4 separate regions of the Homo sapiens genome follow, and regions 1, 3 and 4 are each linked to region 2. The links come from fine-mapping of genetic effects on gene expression. A gene starts in region 2. Each other region holds a variant in brackets. All regions are shown on one strand. Distances are between the middles of the regions.

Region 1 (5,151 bases), 300 kb before region 2:
CAAATAAAAATAAAGTTAACAAAGTCAGGTAGAGTGCCTGGCTGAGGCGTCAACCTGAAAACCCTGAAAACTTCGGCAGAATGGCCATATCTAGATTAAAAAGTTATGGGTCGGATACCAGAGGCATCAGACAAGGAAAGAGGTTACTGAATGAAAAGGCCTGAGACAACTATAAAATATTAAATAATACAGGACAAAAAAAACTTAAATATGTCAGTAACACAATAAATGTACATGGGCTAAACTCTTCATTTAAAGATTAGAAGTATAGATTTTTAAAAACTCTTATCTATAAACAATTAGTCAGAGACATACCTAAAAAATAAAACAGGCATAATCATCTCATACTAGTTAAATATCAGTCAAAAAAAACTTGTGGAACAACGTTAATATCTGACAAAATTTACTTTAAGATAAAAAGCATTACTAGGGATAGAAATGGTAACCATGCAATCATAAGAGGATCATTTCATCAGAAAGATATAAAAATTCTTCATTTGTGATAGCTGCAAAAATACAAAATGCAAAAATTGACCAGAGGAAAATGTGTTTTGTTTCTATATACACCAAATAAATCCCATTTTTTCTAAAGTAGAATAAACAGAGATAAGTAATGCAATGAACCCATCACTCAATTTAAGTAATATTCAAAAGGAAATGGACAAATCCACCATTAGAACAGGAAATGTTAAAACACTTCTTTTGGTATAGTCATGTGCCACATAACAGTTCAGTCAAGGACAGACCACATATACAACGGTGATCCCATAGGATTATGATGGAGCTGAAAAATTCTTATTGCCTAGTGAATTGTTACAATTGTCTACAGTATTCAGTACAGTAACATGCTTTGTAGCGTATTGTGTGTAGGTGTGTAGTAGGCTATATTATCTAGGTTTGTATAAGAGGTGTACACCTATGATATACCTACAACAACAAAGTCATCTAACAACACATTTCCCAGAGCATGTCTCTGTTATTAAGTACACAGGACTTTATTTTTCTCACATAAAAAATAGTCTGCAAAGATTTGGAACATTTGAAAAAAACACAATTGGCAAGATTGATGTGATAGTTCCACCCTGTAGATTTAACCTTTTTTCTCTCACAGCACTCATAACATAAATCCTGTACTTCAAATCTCTGACTACCTTCTCTTCCATCAAATAAAAATAACACATAATTCTACCCTCTTGCCTTGGCCCACATTGTTGTCCAGCCTCCAAAGGCAAAGAATATCTTGACGTGTATTGTCATTTGTTTTTCTCTGGTTGCTTTTGTTTATATTATTATTTGAACTAGGTTGTAAGCTGTTTGATAGCAGAAACAGGATCTCAGGACAGGACTGAGTTCATAGCAGTATTTCTTTTTTAATTAAAGGATTTTAATTTTTAAAAATTCTTTAATTTTAATTAATTTTTTATTTCTTAAAATTAAAGATTAAAGAAATTGTTTAATTAAAAAACAGTGCATGTTCTTTGTCACAAATGAACAATTCAAAGATGTATAAAAAAAATTAATGCTTTTCCCCCATCCTACTCTGTTAAGATAATCAAGGTTAGCAAGTTACCTAGTCTTTCTTTCTTTCTTTCTTTCTTTCTTTCTTTCTTTCTTTCTTTCTTTCTTCTATCCATCTAAACATTGACCTCTATCTGCTTTTGGGGGTGAGGTGGGAGTTTATGTTTTTTACTAAATATTAGATCTACTACATGTATTACTTAGAAACATTTGCAAGCATAAAAGACTATGGAAATTTTTGCCAGATTAATCAATATGACTCCAACTCACTTCTTTAAATATCCACATGGCACTCTATAATACAGATGCCCTATAATTCTTCATCCCTCTTTGATTCATGGTTCATGGCTTTGGGTTGTTTCCAGTTTTTCTGCCATCCAACAAGCTGGTGCTTTTCATTTCTGTGAGTTTAATTGCAAAGAGGAGGACTTGGGGGTCTTTTCTGATTTCTTTTTAAGCTTAAAAAGCTAGTTGTTGGTTGCCTTACTAAAAGGCTACTGTAATTTACATTCCCACAAGCAATATATGGAAGGCCTGCTCCTTGTCTTCAGAGTACTGTAATACCTTTCAATCTTTTTAAATTAGAAATGTAAAAACTGGTATCTCATGTTTGCTTTAGTTTGTATTTCACTAGTTACTAGGAGTTTCAAGCCTTTTCCTATATTGATTTTCACTTATATGTCCTTACCCATGAATTGTTTGTTTTTATTCTTGGCTCATTTTCCTCCTTTTTGCCTCAGAAGTACTTGTTCACAATATATTCTCCTATGTAAGGTGAAGGTGAAAGGGGGTGGCCAGCACAAATCCTCTTTGGCCTGAATTATTTGAGCTCTGCCTTAAACCTCCCTTTTTTCTTTGGCTGTGAAGACATGGTTCCATTTCTCTGGGAAATTGAATGCCCCCATTAAAAAGAAAAAGAAAAGAGAAGAAAGGGGGAAAGAAAGCTCTTACCCACCTCACATAATCCTCTTTGCTATCCACAAAGTCTGCTGCTGCTACACGATTCCCGTGGGATTTCTATTCCAGCAACCAAAGAGCACGGCATAAAACCCACCCACAGAGACCTCACAGTCTGAAGTGCCAGTGTTCAGAAACCATCCGCTTAATGTCGTGCTGCTCTATTGAAAAATGCGGACTCCTTCTGATAGTCTCACTTGAGGGAATAGAAGCCCAAGCGCAGCAGCCCAAATGACAGGGCTCACGCCTTCCCCTCCACCATGCTTTTATCCCACCTTTCCAACACCTCCACCCTTTTAGTCCTTTCCCTGGCCTGCACCCCACCTTTCATATTTCGTAAGAGCGCTTCACTCTCATTCCTGACATTAACGAGCTTCAAGCTGATTTTTGCAAAAAAGAAGAAGAAAATGGAAAAAGAAACCTCATCTTGTAGCCAATATGCCTCCAGCAGGCTTTCCCA[CAG/C]AGAGAGAAGTGACTCTCCAGGCTGCAGGGAGGCTGACATGCAGGCCAGAAGGCAGCTGTCTGCTTTATTGAAATGCCACCTTGACCATTGTGTGCTTTCTCTGAGGGCCGATTGATATTGTTTGAATGCACGGCCTATGACATGCTTTGTTTCTTATGTCCATTGGTCCTCTCAGCAGGCCAGCTGGAGGGAGGAGAATTCGAATCTTGCTGCCAGTCCTACCTTATCACTCTCCACCCTCTCCCCAGCGCTATCTGGCCCCATCAGCTTTTTCAAAAAGACCTCACCGGCACATCCAGTTCAGCACAGATATTGTCTCTTTTCTCATTTCCCATACACGATGGCAGTTTATCCTGTGATCCTGTCAAAAAAAAGTCCTCCAAAGAATTCCAAGAGGTAACACAGATGTGCTTGCACATTTCCACCCACACAGGAACCAGCTTGAAATGTCAGATGATCACTGTGTTTGAGCAAATATTAATTTCCTCATGAGCAGATTTTAAATTTGCAATCGTATCCCAAGGAAATCGTTTGTGCTTAGAATACTTTTTTTTTTTTTTTAACCTAACGTGTTTTTTTGTTCATCTTAAAGACAGACCACTGCCTAAACAACGTATTCCTCTTCCCCCTTCTCATAGATTTATTGAGGTATAATATAACCATAAAAGTCACCCACTTGAAATGTACAATTTGACAAGATTTGGTAACGGTACACACAGTTGTGCAACTGTCACCACAGTCCACTTTCCCCAAAGTCTCATCATCTCCAAAATTCCCTCTTGCCATTTGCTGTTGATTTCTGCTCCCACCTCAAATCCAGGCAACAAATGATGTGCTTTCTGTATCTGTTGTTTTGCCATTTCTAGAAATTTCGTATAAATGGAATAACACAATATGTAGCCTTTGTGTCTAGTGTGTTTTTGAGGTTCATTCACGTTGTTGCTCATATGAGTATTTTGTTATTTTTTAATAGTCAGCTACCAGTGTGGCCATTGTGGGTAGATCACATTTTGTTTATGCGTTCACCAGTTGATGGATCATTGATGTATTTCCAGTTTTTGACTATAGTGTCTCTGCTATGAACATTTCAATATAAGCCTTTGTGTGGACACATGTTTACATTTCTCTTGGGTAAATGTAAAGGAGCCGAACTGCTGGATCAAATGGTTAGCATGTGCTTAGCTTTCTAAAAAGCTGCCAAACTTCAAAATGTTAAAAAATAAAACCACGCCTCATTTTCAAGGTTGTATTGGCCATGAAATCACCCAATCTCAAAGAATAAATAAAAATTTTGAGCATAATTTAGCAAAGTTTTTAGACATAGAATCATGAGCAATAAAAGTAGTAGAACTTTAGCCGGGCATGGTGGCGGGTGCCTGTAATCCCAGCTACTCAGGAGGCTGATGCAGGAGAATCACTTGAACCCGGGAGGTGGAGGTTGCAGTGAGCCGAGACCCGCCACTGCACTCCAGCCTGGGCAACAGAGTGGGACTCCGTCTCAAAAAAAATAATAAAAATAAATAAAATCTAAGGAAAAGGAATATTATTAAATCCTCTTCTGTCACTGCTGAATCTTTAGCCCATAGAGAAGGGCCTTTTTTAGAACTCTGCTGACAAAGGAAAGGCATAGAATCACCACTGGTTCTCAGTTCTTTTGCCTCCACTTTCTGTGCCCTGCTTCTGTGCACTGAGCCTGAAGGGGCCTCTTTCAGAGATCTCAGGCTAAAAGGACCCAGTTGAGGCTGCTCCTGAAGAGGTAAGAGCAGAAGGGTTTTGGGTGCACAGGCCTTGTCAGTCCTACTGCCGCCAGCTGGGTGGAAGCTACATCCACAGGCTTCATCAACAGGGCACCTTATGGGTTTCCTCAGCCTCCTTCTAACAGCCTTCTGAATGCCTGGGAAGTGATAGACCAGGATTTCCCTGACCTTGGAGTACCTGAGGATTCTAGATCCCTGGGATCAGAAAAGAAGCTAAACTCTGCCCTGGTGGTTTGGGATGACAAGGCCATGGCACTAGAGAAAGAAGAGATTTTTCCAATTTTATTTCTGCTACCTACAAGTTTTATGTTCTTAAGCAAATTATGAACCTTTCTAGTTTTCCATTTTTCCCCGTCAGGGTAGCTGTGAGGATGAAGTGGGATAATGAGAGGCTGCACATAACACAAGCTCTTTGATGGCAGGAATATTTGTATAGATCCCAAGAACCTAGAACAG
Region 2 (5,151 bases):
GAAAAGCTCATCCTTGCCAAATCCTGGCTTTCCCCCTTCAACTCTATGTGATAGGATACTAATTCAAGGCAATGGCTGAAGTGCCTTCCCTAACCCCTGACTTCCTTGCTCCCTTCCCAAATGCACAGCTCAAGGGAATTCCCTTCTCCTCACCTCTGGAGCAATCTGGAGGCTAAACAGAAAGGATACCTACACATTAGAGAGAGTCTTGGAAATCTCATAATCCCAGTTCAAAAGGCACCACCCAGGTGAGACAGGAAGTGTGAACAGGGAGAACATTTTTTTGCCCTTGAAGTTGGGGAACTAGAGAGTAAATGGAACTTGTGTTTTGCTTTCCATATGGAATTACTGGCAGCAACAGCTTAATGAGCATCGCCCCTGCCCCAAGACGGGATCCAGAGGACTCTGTGAAGGTGGCAGGTTCAAGCATGTAAGGACTCTGAAAGTCCCCGAGACCTCTCCAACAGCCCCAGAGAAGATCTAGAAATTCCAACTCGTTATGAGCTGACAGAAAGGCTGATGTGCTGCGGAAGGGGTTGGTACCGGGACCTTGGATCAGAGGCTTTGCAGGGTTGGGTCCATGAGGGGTCCAAAGAGAAACAGTTATGTCTCAACGAGGATGCAGTGCATGAGTGGGGCTTGGTAAAAACTCCATGTAGTGAATAAAGGGCTTCACTAATAAATTCTCTTATTAATCCCAAACTGTAGGCTACATCCAAGATTCTGTGATCATGTTCGTGTGTTTGGCTCTTCCCCTGAAAAATTAGCTCTTGTTTGGCTTTGCTTCCAATAGTAAGTGTTCCAGTTTGAAACATGGCATTTCATGGTTCTGGCTGGTCTCCTAGGGTCTGGTTTTACTAACAATTTTCTGAAAGGGAGGCAGTTAAAAAAAAAGAAAGCTCTCAAAAACAGTAGTCTACTCAATATAAGCAGCTCTTCCCAAGAGAAGTACAATTCTCTTTGAAGTTACACTCCACTAACACTTAAAGGAATAGAAGCCAAGGAGGAAAAAGAACTAATATTTACTAAGCTCCTCCAAAGTGCCAGGCACTTTACACATGCTCACTCTCTCTAATAGCCTATTATTCTCATTCAAGGTGGGGTAACTGAAGCAAAGAACCATTCATGTAACTTTGCTAAGTTCACACAACTTGTTGGAATGCAATCCACATCTGTGTGAGTATAAACTCCCTGCTTTTTCAGCTTCACCAAGATCCCTCTTTTTTTTTTTTTTTTTTTTTTTTGAGACGGAGTCTCGCTCTGTCTCCCAGGCTGGAGTGCAGTGGTGCGATCTTGGCTCACTGCAACCTCTGCCTCCCTTCCTTTTATTGGGGCACTATAGTATATGAAATAGATCATCAAGAAGTAATTGAGGTTCTTCCAGAATTTCCTGAACAATGAAATTAACAAGCACTGTTGGTAAATAATAAAAATGCTGGATTAATTTGAAAAAAAAAAAAGTACTAGAATGTTTCTATTCAGGCCGCACCTGAAAATGTGCTACTTATACTAATTAAAAATCCTCAGGCAAGAGACAACTGTGCCCAATTTTCAAGTTTTTTGTTTTGTTTTGTTTTGTTTTGTTGTTTTGTTAATTGTTGACCACGTCCTGAGTTCAGAGCGAATCCTCTGGGTGTTTAATAGGAAACAGATAATTTCTTTCTGAACCTAGCCTACACAAAGAAATCCAAAAGCGTGAGGAAGTGTGTGCTCTCCCCCTTCCCCTCATGGAATTAACTTTGTAGGACCACCTGGCCAGTGAGGCACCCAGATAGGAAACTTTTAATTTGCGTCAACAGAGGTGCTTTATCTGAATAAAACCCAGCCAGAGCCAGAGCGAAGGGGAGAGAGAGAATTGCTGACCAGAAGAACAGGAGAAGCAGGGAGGGAAGTGACCTTAAGAACACACACGGCCCGCGCATCCCACCCCACCAGAGTCTTTAACCCAAAGCCTCTGGGTTTCTCTAGCAGCTATGGGCAGGTGCCCTCCTCAGCCCGAGCCAGCTGCCCGCCCCACCCCGCCTTTTGGCCTCGCGCGGGCGTCGGTGGCCTGCAGGACTGGCAGGCATCCAGGCGCCAGGCGGAGCGCTGAGGGAGGCTCCCGCCGGCCGAACAGCGGGGAGACCCGTGAAGCAGGCGCACCGGCCACGCGCCCGGAGGGACAGGGACAGGGACCGGCAGGGGTGGGCCCGCCGCCAACCCGCCGGGCACCCCGCGGACTCGGGCCTAGCCAGCGACTCCCCCCGCCCTTCCCGCGCCCTGTCTCGCGCCCCGTCGCCTTCCTCCCGCGCCCCGTCGCCTTCCTCCCGCGCCCCGTCTCCCTCCTCCCGTGCCCCGTCTCCCTCCTCCCGTGCCCCAGGCCCTCAGCCCCCCACTTGACGGGCGCAGGGAAGGGGCGGGTGCCGCGCTCTCCTCCCGGCCCGCAGTCCCCTACCCGCGGCTCGAGCGCGCTGTACCTGGGGTTCTGGGGCCGCCCTCACCCTTGCGCCGCCGCCACCACCACTGCCGCCGGCCTAGCTCCCCCAGGACCGAAAGTGAAAGTGGAGCCCGGGGAGCGGCAGGCTGGCGCTGAGCGGCGCTTCGGCCCGAGCCCTAGCGGCAGGCGGGGAAGCCCCTGGCTAAGGCGGGAGCTGGGGAAAGGGTAAACGGGAGTGGGGCCGAGCGAGGGAAGCCGCAACTCCCAGGAAGGGAATTGGTAAATGAGCGCTGCACGCCGGGGAAGCTGCGAGGTTGCGATGCGGGGGATCAGGCGTAGGAAGTGCACGCCTTTCTGAACGCGGATCCGTGTGTGTGTGTGTGTGTGTGTGTGTGTGTGTGTGTGTGTGTGTGTGTGTGTGTGTGTGTGTGTGTGTGTGTGTTGAGATGCTTTTTGTTTTTGTCTTTTTTTTTTTTTCACTGTTTAGCGTTGCGAGGGTTAGGGGCATGCAGGAAAGGGCCGGTGCTCAAGTTGGGGACCGAAGCCAGGCAGGCGCTGACAAGTCCACCAAGCCTAGACGCGTTCGACGCCCATTGGACTCGCTGGGTGTCCGTCATCTCGCCACTGCCAGTGGGCTGAGAGCTCTTGGCCCGCCTCGGAAAGAAACATGAACCCAGTACTCTGTCGTGGCAAAGTGCCGCACCTTCTGGGGCTTCGGTAGAGAATGACTACAGTGGGAGATGCTGTAGAGGAGGAAGGTGGGTTAGAGGTGGCCCCCAGGACTTTCCTGCACTACCAAGGGCCACTGTACCCCAAGGATTAGCTGCTTCCCGCATCAACACGTTCCCTCTGATTTTTCAAAGTAAATGACCATTTCTTCACTCCCCTTAGAACAATTAAAGCTGAATAAAATGGCCAAAAAGACCATCTTTAAACAGTTGAGGCTAAATGAGGTAACAAGTCAAGAAAACACAAACATTAAAACACCAAATGCTACAAGTTTATTACCGAAAATGGGTCCCGATCCAGACCCCAAGAGAGGGTTCTTGGATTTTGCGCAAGAAAGAATTTGAGGGGAGTCCATGGAGTAAAGTGAAAGCAAGTAATTAAGAAACTAAAGGAATAAAAGAATGGCTACTCATAGGCAGAGCACCCCCAAGGGCTGTTGGTTGTCCATTTTTAGGGTTATTTCTTGATTATATGCTAAGCGGGGGAAATTATTCATGCCTCCCCTTTTTAGACCATATAGGGTAGCTTCCCGACGTTGCAGTGGCATTTGTAAACTGTCATGGAGCTGGTGAGACCGTAGCAGTGACGACCAGAGGACACTCTCATTGCCATCCTGGTTTTGGTGGGTTTTGGCCAGCTTCCTTACTGCAACCTGTTTTATCAGCAAGGTCTTTATGACCTGTGTCTTGTGCCTACCTTCTATCTCATTCTGTGACTTAGAATGTCTAACCTCCTGGGAGTGTAGCCCAGTAGGTCTCAGCCTTATTTTACCCAGCTCCTATTCAAGATGGAGTTGCTCTGGTTCAAACGTCTCTGATAATTTGGTGAGTGGACCATGGTCCTAGTGGGAACAGGACCCTTTTCATGCGGTTCTCAGACTTTCTTCTCCCACTTCTTTATTGGCCTTCTTCCCTTTGAGAACTGGGGATTCCAAGTCACTGCAACAGTATTTCTCTTTTTTTTTCAATATTATGTTTCCTTTTTAAAAATATAATGTTTCATACTGCCTATTATCTCTAGTCAAGGACATTTTATAATATAAAGATTAACACCCTGTTCCAAGACTCAACTACGGTGGGATCCAGGGAAGTTTTTTTCACTAAAATTCAACAAGAAATGAGGACTTTGAGATCTGGTAATTTCTGCATGTTCAGAATTTGACAGGAGGTATCAATGGATAGCGTGTAGCCTCCAAGACCTCCAGACATCTCGGAGTGCTCCCAGTTTACTCAAGATGAGACCTCTTTGTCCAGTAAATGTATGCATTTCTTTGCTTTTATATTTATATTTTTGAATATGATGGTTTTCCTTTGGCTTCTAGTAAAGTTTTTTTGTTTTTGTTTTTGTTTTTTGTTTATGTGTCTTTTTAAATACATATTGAAAGTCCAGCTGGCAGAACTGAATGCACCCAACAGGCTGGAGGTTAATACAGAAGACAGCTGAGGAGACAAACAGGGCAATGCCCTGAATGGATGTGGGCAGAAAGGAGCTGAAGTGTAGGCGAGGAGAGAGCTGACACCACCACCCGCTCCACGCCGTTTCCCCAAAAGCTCACCCTGACTCAGACTTTAGCCTGTCGCCCTGGCCGTGATTTCGTCTTTAGAGTTGAAGTGCACTACAAAGAGCGATAAGTCAGAGGATTTGGCAGCATTCACTTCTAGTTTCAAAGCCCTAGCAGGGATGTAGAGGACACAGACCTTGGAGTAAGGACTTTAAGGAGTCCTAGTTCTAGAGCCTGTGAGATCAAAACAGCACATTACCGAGCTTAGAAATGGTTAGAAGGAAGGGAACAGAGAGAAAGGGTACCTAGGTTTATTGATTCCCTACCAACTGTTAGATACTGTTAAATGCTAGCTATGTGTGCATGTGTGTGTTTATAATTTGATCTCTTCAGCAACCCTGTAATGTAGATATTATGCTTTATAGATGAGAAAAATGAGACAGGTCGGCAACTTGCTCAGAGTCAAAGAGAAAACACACACTAATTCTACTCACATTGCATTGGC
Region 3 (5,151 bases), 78 kb before region 2:
TGAATGGCTGTGTACATGTAGAATATATAAAATATAACATTAAGTCCGTATATTGTTAAAAAGAATATATAATATTTTATAAATGAAAACTATTTCAGAAGCATTTTGTTCAAATCTAGTTTTTTGTTATATGTATAGTGATTGCTTTAAAAAAGAAAAAAGCAAGAGGAACAGAAGAAAAAAGGCAAAGAGTAGTAATGAATATCCAATTCCAATTCCAATGAGACATCAAGAATAAGGTGTCTGCTGAACTCAGCACCTAGATGGCTTAGGGATGAGAATCTTTCCTAAGAGGCTGGCTGGGTTTATCGTGACAGTCTTACCTCAGTTGGTGGAGCTAGTTAACAGTTACACAGGAGGCTAGCTTCTGTTACTTTCCTGACCCATGACTGTCCAGAATGAATGCCATTCTGCCTCTGCATGGAGGTGAACCCCAGGTTGTGTACGGCAGCACAAATGTTTCTCTTCAATAAGGTGCTGCATTTTATTTTGTCAAGCACTTAAAGCAAGTACTAAGACAAGACCACAAGGTTTCCTGTGGAAAAGCACAGATATTTGAGCCCAGGTACTTCAGGCACAGGTGAGGGTGAAAGGTGAGGCTTGTCTGATTTTGTGGAAGGCCTCCTGGTGGCCCCTGGGGATGGTAGAACATAGGGTACTCCGAGTGAAGAATTCAGCAGCTAAGTGGAAGTTGTCTTCTATTCCACTTTAAATACTTTTATCTACTGAATCGCAAGAAAATTGGGTTTCTGGTGGTAAGATCTTCTCTACTAACAAAGAAACAAAACTCTGTAAATCCTATGAAAGGAGTTTTTTTTTTTTTTTGCTTTTGAGACGGAGTCTCGCTCTGTCGCCCAGGCTGGAGTGCAGTGGCGCCATCTTGGCTCACTGCAAGCTCCGCCTCCCGGGTTCACGCCATTCTCCTTCCTCCGCCTCCCGAGTAGCTGGGACTACAGGCACCCGCCACCAAGCCTGGCTCATTTTTTTGTATTTTTAGTAGAGACGGGGTTTCACTGTGTTAGCCAGGATGGTCTTGATCTCCTGACCTTGTGATACGCCCGCCTCGGCCTCCCAAAGTGCTGGGATTACAGGCGTGAGCCACCGCGCCTGGCCTAAAATATATTTTCTAGAGTGGGATTAGCTGTCAACAAACTCAGTAGTCACATGGCTCATGTGTTATCTGTGTACATTTGTGAAAAACAACCAGTAATTTAGAGACATACGTGTATTTGAAAATATTATTCAGATGAAATACTGAATTTTTCATTATTCTGATAATCACCATTCTCAGAGACTGCTGACAGGGTTACTATTGACCTGATACCACATGTCTACTTCTGTGATCCTAAAGAGTGGGCCTGAGTGGGCCTAAGCGGGCTTTTCCTGAAAAAGGCAGAATGTTTTAGTTGGAATTTTGTTCTTGTTCTTGTTTGAAAGTATTACAAGTTGGATTCCAGTGTAATCAAGTTTAATCTTTTGAAATTGACAGCTGTCTGTGGTTCATGAGAAAAAATCCCAAGAAGGAAAGCCAAAAGAACACACAGAGGTAAATGATTATCATCAGGACTTAATTATAAGGCAACCTCTTTTGGTGGGATATAATTAAAATCTTTCATTAATTCAAAACTAATCCCTACAATGGATAGTTGGATATTAGTTTTTTCAGCTAAAATGGTGCCATCCTGTGGCAATAGCAGTGTTTACAATTTATGTGATTCTTGCTGAATTTTGGGGGAAGGATTTGCACTATTTCAAATTTTGTACCTAAAGTGAAATTGTCACATGTACATCACACTAATTGAAATTTACATAATTTAGAACCACAGACAGCACAACTGTTATGAACAATTTTTATTCTATAGAGAAAAGTATCAGTATTATGTTTAAGACTACCATCTTGTTAACAATGTCTTTATATGTGTGTGGGCACCTGTGTGTGTACTTTCAGCCAAAAAGCCTACCCAAGCAGGCATCAGATACAGGAAGTAACGATGCTCACAATAAAAAAGCAGTTTCCAGATCAGCTGAACAGCAGCCATCAGAGAAATCAACAGAACCAAAGGTAAATGAAGCAGATTGATAGGAAAACCTTAACATCAACTGGATAATAAGATACGGTTCCCCTGTTCACACTGAGGTGTGTAGTTCAATCTATGGGGCTGTGCTGAATATATTTTGTATTATAGTGATTTGGTATTATTATTTTGTTGGTTTTTCAAATAGACTTGTAGGAACTTGGATGCATGGATGGCTTGAGAAGGGCATCAGATTGGTCTAGGGGATGCGCTGTCCGTCCTTCTCCTACTGCCCAGCAATAACCAGCTGTGACTGCAGGGCAGCAGGCTCTGCTGTCTCCCAGACAGGCAGCTTTGGATTGAGGCTGCCTCCTGGACCCCCCACACCTGGGCTGGGGAACATATGTGCCCTGAATTATCTGGTTCTTTAAATGGAAATCCTAAAGCATTTTTAGGGTCGTGTTGTAGAAGAGCTGAACTTACAGAGCCAAAAATTAGAAATTGCTTCCATACTTCTGTAGTTAATAGCAGCCACCTTTTAGAAGAATTAACATCTACAAGAAATACTTTTTCATTGAGAGCACTTGGAAGATAATAACGAGGTCTGCTTCACAGTATATTTTATATCAGAGATCACAGATTTGTGATCTACCACTTAAATGCCACATGT[A/C]TATTTTGTTTGGCTTACAATGTTGTTAAAAAATTATTTTTAATTAATTGCCAGCAATCAAAGTCAGGGCATTTCACATAACATCCCAAATTGTAACTTCTCTTGAAAAATCAGACTATCTAGTAAGAGTGAGCTCACGTGGCAACAATTGACTAGAGCCATTACACCTGGTATGTGTGCTCCAGTTTACCACAATCCTTACCTAGCCTGATTGACCTACGCAAGTTACCTGCGTGAACGTTTTAGGCTCTTGAGTCCAGCTTTATGTGGTGCTTAGCACTGCACCATGTACAATAGAAGTGAGCAAACATTCCCTTATGGTGTCCGTGAGGGTGAACTGGCAGATGTTAGTGACATTTGAAACTCATGATCTTGATAATAGCCATGCAGAGATACTTAGCTCTGTCAACCTTTTATCCTCACTGTCTTAGACTAAACCACAAGACATGATTTCTGCTGGTGGAGAGAGTGTTGCTGGTATCACTGCAATATCTGGCAAGCCGGGTGACAAGGTGAGCACACACAAGCAGACGGAAACGTGGGCCTCTGTGCTTCTCAAGTTTCTTTTATGAGAAACGTATGCTCAAATAACCTATCATCTGGCAAAACTGAACACTGCTTATATGTAAAATTTTGTGAAGAGCATGCATTTAAGGGATAGAGAGTGAACAAGATACCAAAAATAATTTGTAAATTTATATATTCAATAACTGCTTACTGAGTACATGCCATATATAACGTACTGATATCAATACCAAGGACATTAAAATGTGAGTTGACTCAGACTCTCCCTTCCAAATGTATAGATATGAAATAAAGCAAATACAATTTCCAGGAGCATTTGAATCGGCTTTTTCAGCTTTCAATGCTGATGCCAGCTGTCTTGATACTAGTGTATCACAACTATGACATCAACATGAATGGATATGAGAAGTTTTCAAAGGAAATATTTCAAGTCCTCTCAGGATGAAGTAGATGTGTTGAGCTGGGTGATTGTGGGCATAACTTCCTTAGATTTTTTGAAGAGCTGCTTCCAATACTTGCCCAGGAATATAAGATGAGAAGTTATCTACCTTTTCTACCCATAGCAATATAGAATTTTTTTTTTTACCTTATCCTTTAAGGTTTTTTTTTTTTTTTTTGCATTTATTTATTTATTTATTTTCATTATACTTTAAGTTTTAGGGTACATGTGCACATTGTGCAGGTTAGTTACATATGTATACATGTGCCATGCTGGTGCGCTGCACCCACTAACTCGTCATCTAGCATTAGGTATATCTCCCAATGCTATCCCTCCCCCCTCTCCCCACCCCTCCACAGTCCCCCGAGTGTGATATTCCCCTTCCTGTGTCCATGTGATCTCATTGTTCAATTCCCACGTATGAGTGAGAATATGCGGTGTTTGGTTTTTCGTTCTTGCGATAGTTTACTGAGAATGATGATTTCCAATTTCATCCATGTCCCTACAAAGGACATGAACTCATCATTTTTTATGGCTGCATAGTATTCCATGGTGTATATGTGCCACATTTTCTTAATCCACTCTGTCATTGTTGGACATTTGGGTTGGTTCGAAGTCTTTGCTATTGTGAATAATGCCGCAGTAAACATACTTGTGCATGTGTCTTTATAGCAGCATGATTTATAGTCCTTTTGGTATATACCCAGTAATGGGATGGCTAGGTCAAATGGTATTTCTAGTTCTAGATCCCTGAGGAATCGCCACACTGACTTCCACAAGGGTTGAACTAGTTTACAGTCCCACCAACAGTGTAAAAGTGTTCCTATTTCTCCACATCCTCTCCAGCACCTGTTGTTTCCTGACTTTTGAATGATTGCCATTCTAACTGGTGTGAGATGGTATCTCATTGTGGTTTTGATTTGCATTTCTCTGATGGCCAGTGATGATGAGCATTTTTTCATGTGTCTTTTGGCTGCATAAATGTCTTCTTTTGAGAAGTGTCTGTTCATGTCCTTCGCCCACTTTTTGATGGGGTTGTTTGTTTTTTTCTTGTAAATTTGTTTGAGTTCATTGTAGATTCTGGATATTAGCCCTTTGTCAGATGAGTAGGTTGCGAAAATTTTCTCCCATTTTGTAGGTTGCCTGTTCACTCTGATGGTAGTTTCTTTTGCTGTGCAGAAGCTCTTTAGTTTAATTAGATCCCATTTGTCAATTTTGGCTTTTGTTGCCATTGCTTTTGGTGTTTTGGACATGAAGTCCTTGCCCATGCCTATGTCCTGAATGGTAATGCCTAGGTTTTCTTCTAGGGTTTTTATGGTTTTAGGTCTAACGTCTGATCTTTGACAAACCTGAGAAAAACAAGCAATGGGGAAAGGATTCCCTATTTAATAAATGGTGCTGGGAAAACTGGCTAGCCATATGTAGAAAGCTGAAACTGGATCCCTTCCTTACACCTTATACAAAAATCAATTCAAGATGGATTAAAGACTTAAACGTTAGAC
Region 4 (5,151 bases), 53 kb after region 2:
CAGGTTAGATTAATCATGGTATGTAAATAGATAGTTACTGTAGCTAAAATGTCATGTCCAGAATAGAAGCCCAGCAAAGGAATAAAAGTGAGAAAAAGGAAGAGGAACAGTGTGGAACATCAGCAAGTCATTCTCATCACTTTAAAACTTCCCTGTGTTCTTGATTCACAGGCAAACACAAATCCAACAACATCACAAAACAGTTCCAAGAACCCTGGCTCTGAAGATTACTCCTTCAAAGCATGATATTGGTTGCTACAATTCCAAAAGAAAAAGATGAAGCTTATGTTAGACCAAGGCCCTGCCACATGCATACACACACACACACACACACACACACACACACACACACACACACACTGAACAACAGACATGTTCTATTCCTTTCCATGCCCCTAAGTAATTAGCACAAGGCCTTCGTTTGTTAGTTGTCTGTGCAGTTTGTTGAATTGGGTCTCTGGGCGACACAGGAGTGTCCTTCTTGTCCATCCTGGTCTGTACTTGGGGCTGTCAATGGAAAGCCTTCCTTCCACACTGCCAAAAAACCCCCCTGGAAAACAGAGTCCAAACACAGCAGGGGGCCACATTCACCTTCGTGTTCCCAACACGCTGTTGCTCTGCGAGTGCAGGTTGAGTTGAGGGAACAGTTCTGTTGCCCAGAGCATTGCCTCAGGCTCCCAGACCGTTTGTGCTGGGATACTAGATTGGCGGAACCAAAGAAGACCATTCTCCTCTGTAGGTGGATGGTTCCCTGCTTGTATCTTTCCAGAATTGGGGCAATCTGAGCCTCAATGTCACACAAGCTGCACAGTGCAATGTGGGGAATGCCCAGGACAGAGCTGAGAGGCTAGATCCTGCCTTGGCCTTTCATCTAGTCACTGTTAAGACCTTGGCAAACCACTTAACCTCACTGGGCTTCTATTTTCTCATCTGTAATATCTCCCCTGATTTCTGTGGAGATTGTTCTGAGGATCAATGACATAATATATATCAAAGTTTTTGTTAACTGCTAAGCAAGCCTAGTAGTACTTATGGCATTATTAATTTTGGCTGGCAACTATGACTCTGACCTATTGACATCAGCCTAATAACATCAGTAAGGCCAAGCAGGCTATGTTAATGTTTGAGGGAGATTTTTCATACATGAAATTTAAAATCCCCTCTAGCTGGTGTAAAATAATACTTAGCATACTACCTTCCCTGAGCTTGGGCTGGGCTGCAGTGAATGGCATATCGTTTTGTGATTTAACATCATATTGAGATAAAGTACAGCCCAAAATACATATTGTCTATCAATCTGTTAATTTTATTTATTTATTTATTTATTTAATTTTTGAGAGAGTCTCACTCTGTTGACCAGGCTGGAGCACAGTGGCATGATCTCGGCTCACTGCAACCTCTGTCTCGAGCAATTCTTCTGCCTCAGCCTCCAGAGTAGCTGGGATTACAGGCGTGTGCCACTACGCCTGGCTAATTTTTGTATTTTTGGTACAGACGGAGTTTCACCATGTTGGCCAGGCTGGTCTCGAACTCCTGACCTCAGGTGATCCACCTGCCTGGGCCTCCCAAAGTGCTGGGATTACAAGTGTGAGCCACTACACCCAGCCCTGTCTATAAATTTATAATGAGAATGTGTTTCACAGGATGTGTATTTATAAATATAAGTAATTATATTTATAATGATAAATTAGGCCTGTGTTGTTGTTTGTGGTGGTGATATTAAGGCTGAATTTACAGAGGAGAAGAACTAGTCTTACATTCATTCAACAAAATTATTTAGCAACTACTGTGTGCCAAGCTCACTGTATTAGATACTAAAATATAGCACTGAATGAAAAAGACATGGGCCCCAACCTTACTATATTACTGTCTGGTAACCCAGTTGAGTGTAAGGGGGTCTAGGAAGGTTTCCTTGAGTAAGAGTCAGTTTCTGGAAGACTTCCACAAGAAGGAGTTGGCTAGAATTCAGGGGAGTGGAATAAAAGGGGGAGCTAATGCACATTTGTCAGTTGGTTGCTGTTTATCATATTCTAAATGATTGCCTCACTTTTCAGTCCCACTGCCCCAAAGAAATCAGACTCAAATTTCCAGCCTCCATTATAGCCAAATTGCAGACAAGTGACTTACCTCTGCCAATCCAATGCAGTAATGTGCGACTTCAATTTACAAGTGAGCAACACAGGTAAACAGTCTTCATGTAGAGCTTTCTTTTCTTTCTTTTTTTTTTTTTAATTGTGTGGGCAGAAGCCTCTACCGACTGAAGAGAGCAGTCATTACAAGGTCAAAACCTGCCTTTGTGATTCTGTGGCCAAATTGTCTCCCTAGAAGTTTGTAAGTCTGTTTCTACAGCCTTCCTGACAATTCTTTGAACTGCCAAAATATTTTCATCAATTCCCACAAATAAGGCATCTGACCACTCCACAACAAAGAAGGTATGAACAAGGGCTTGTGCCTCTGATCTGCTGGTCTTATCACTTGCTGTGGCTTCCAGAAGCAGGTGGCATCAGTGTGGGTTTTCCCTGGGGACATCTTCA[T/G]GTTACAGAGGTAATGAACACACAGATACTTCACTAAGGCAGCCTTCGACTAACTCTCTGGTAACAAAGGATAGAGTGGCCTAATTAAGGAGAGTTTCTGATGAGCAGCCTGAGCCCCAGCGGATCTGAATGCAGATTAGGTAAAAATCTAGGTGGCTTTTGACTGGTATGTGCTTATTCTCATTTAAAGATTTCACAGGGATAGTCTCAAGGTTCATAAGCAGCTCCAAAGGTACTTGAAGATATTTCTGAAAGCCTTAATCAGAATTGGCAATGTTTCCTCTGATGCTGTGGATACCATTCGTCCTCCTCAGTAATAATAAGCACTAATATCTCTGGAGCACTTGGGATATGCCAGGCTTCATCACATACCATCTTATTTGATCCCAGCTACAACACTTTAAGACAGGTATTTTAATTATCCCCACTTTACAAATGAGGAAAGTGAGGCAACAGAACTTAAACATCTAACTGAAGTACATGGCCCAGCATTTGAACCCAGGACATTTAACTTCAAAGCCCATGTGCTTAACATTCCACTGTGACTACAGAGCAGAGACAACATCCTTGCGGGAATTCTGTTGCATTTACCCAACAGTAATTTTGCCTATTACTTTTTAATGATCAAAATAAACTTGAAATTTAAAGCATCCCATTCTAAAAAGCTTGTATGACTTGTGAACCAAGGTATATTGTGATTCTTTTTGAAAAAAAAATCAAGACAAGGTCTTGCTCTGTCACCCAGGTTGGAGTGCAATAGTGCAATCATGGCTTACTGCATCCTTGAACTCCTGGGCTCAAGTGATCCTCTTGGCTCAGCCTCCCAAGAAGTTGGAACCACAGGTGCACACAATCATGCCCAGCTAGTTTTATTTTTTTCTTTTTATTTTTTGTAGAGATGGGATCTTCCTATGTTGTCCAAGCTGGTCTCAAACTCCTGGCCTCAAACAATCCTGCCTCAGCCTCCCAGAGTGCTGGGATTACAGGCATGAGCCACCCTGCCCAGTCTAAATCAATCTTTACAAAAGGTGATACTATAAGTTCTTTAGTGGACAAGACATTGCTACCCAAGTGCCATCTCAATAAACAGTAAACTTTTACAACAAATAATCATGTAAATAAATAAATAAACTTGCCTTCTTATTAGTGAAATTGCGGCTGCCAACCTTGTGAAGATGGCCTGAGAATCAGTCTAACCCAAGCTGTCACAGAAAATCAGAAGGCAGCTATTAGCAAATATTTCAGTGTGTCAAAGCCAGATATGAGATCTGGAACTTGTAACAGAAACTCCCTGAAATTACAGTGGTTATGAATAAGGGGCATTAAAAGATTCCATCATTGTCTGGTGAATGGTTGACTTTTAGTAGCGAATGAGTTTTAAAGACCTCTGTTGTTTCATTTTAAGCTGATCTTTTCTTGATGGCAACAGGGTAACCTTCTCTGCAGCCACCATGATTGCCTAGAGATTATTCTTTATGCTCTGCCTCATTCCAAGCATATGAGGCAATTGAGAGATTAAGGAGGAAGAGAAGTGCTTGTTACAAGACTATCCCTGCACCATTCTCTGGGCCCATCCCTAAGAAAAGGTCTCATTTTGACCTTTCCTGTCCCCCTGCCATTTTGCTGTTACTTCCTACCAAAATGCCTTGGACCTTTCAGAGCTACCTCGTTTACCCTCACCCGTATCTGGGTTGAGCAGGGCATAACTGAAAGTGGCACACTTGCCATGTTAACTTATGCTTCTTGGAAACTTATGATTCACTTATTTTTTTTTACATAAGTATTTCTTCTTTTGTTAGAAGATCCACCTGCACTATCCTCTCAAGTCTCTCTTCTCTAAATCCACCACTGTGCCCTAAGTTTGCCCCCTGCCCCCACCTTCACTCCCTGTGTGCCCTCCTCAGGCTCCTCTCCATTCTAAGTACCCAAGGCTTGTTCCCCAATCAGTCTCTTCCTGCACCCTCCCTCACAATTTGCCCTCTGTCAGCTGCAGAGCCTCTACACCAGAACCTCTACAGATTCTACCAACAGCTCTACTCCCACCGTCCACCTCCTTAGCCCTCTGCAGTGTGGTTTCACCCTTTGCCTATCCCTGAAGTTAAGCGGTTTCTCTCAGAGGCATTTTCTGTGTCATCCAATTCAGTGGGTTTTTCTCAATCACCATCCTCACTCACCTTTCATTTGTGTCTCCTGATCACCACTTTTTCATGAAATTCTCTTCTCTTGGCTTCTGTCATGTTCTTATAATCCTCCCCCGTGCCCGATTTCTCTGGCTGTCTTTTCTTTTTCTTGTTCCCCGAAACAGAAGCTCCTTCAGCCTCTTTCTCTTTTTACTCTGTATTTTCTCTTAGCAGATTCACCCATGGTCACGACTTTGCTGCCTTTTTATGTGAATTCCTACCTGATTTTTTCATACATTTTTGTTCACATTTCTAACTACCCACTGATTTTTATGTGAAAATTGTTATTAGTTCTTCAAGCTAGATATGTTCAGGATCCAGTCACGTCTACCACTCCTCTCTGGTACAAACCCCTAATTCCAACCAGGAAATTTAGAAATCTTATTTAAAAAAAAATCTCATCTCAATCACTTTGCTCCTTTAGTATCACTTCTTAT

Evidence for each region. PIP is the estimated chance that this variant, and not a neighbour inherited with it, causes the effect.
Region 1: its variant is the best candidate, but not a certain one, in a credible set for the expression of ERAP1 in whole blood (INTERVAL, PIP 0.65).
Region 3: its variant is the best candidate, but not a certain one, in a credible set for the expression of ERAP1 in whole blood (INTERVAL, PIP 0.50).
Region 4: its variant is the best candidate, but not a certain one, in a credible set for the expression of ERAP1 in whole blood (INTERVAL, PIP 0.89).

Annotation. Positions count from the first base shown.
Region 1 is chr5:96,501,041-96,506,191 of GRCh38, forward strand. All of the region lies in intron 4 of LOC101929710 (a long non-coding RNA gene), which reads left to right. It also overlaps a transcript of CAST not described here. Among named protein-coding and RNA genes, the nearest start is that of PCSK1, 70 kb to the left of the region's middle. The variant CAG/C (reference allele first, on the strand shown) is at 2,936.
Region 2 is chr5:96,805,404-96,810,554 of GRCh38, forward strand. ERAP1 (endoplasmic reticulum aminopeptidase 1) reads right to left here and starts at 2,542. Exons shown (of 19, transcript NM_001040458.3): 1 at 2,457-2,542. LOC124901033 (a long non-coding RNA gene) reads left to right here and starts at 2,055. Exons shown (of 3, transcript XR_007058879.1): 1 at 2,055-3,174. RefSeq lists a silencer at 1,963-2,422 and enhancers at 1,995-2,496, 2,497-2,996, 3,153-3,222.
Region 3 is chr5:96,727,664-96,732,814 of GRCh38, forward strand. It overlaps CAST (calpastatin), which reads left to right. Exons shown (of 32, transcript NM_001750.7): 7 at 1,490-1,546; 8 at 1,949-2,062; 9 at 3,117-3,197. Among named protein-coding and RNA genes, the nearest start is that of CAST, 68 kb to the left of the region's middle. The variant A/C (reference allele first, on the strand shown) is at 2,686.
Region 4 is chr5:96,858,747-96,863,897 of GRCh38, forward strand. It overlaps a transcript of ERAP1 not described here. Among named protein-coding and RNA genes, the nearest start is that of ERAP2, 15 kb to the right of the region's middle. The variant T/G (reference allele first, on the strand shown) is at 2,535.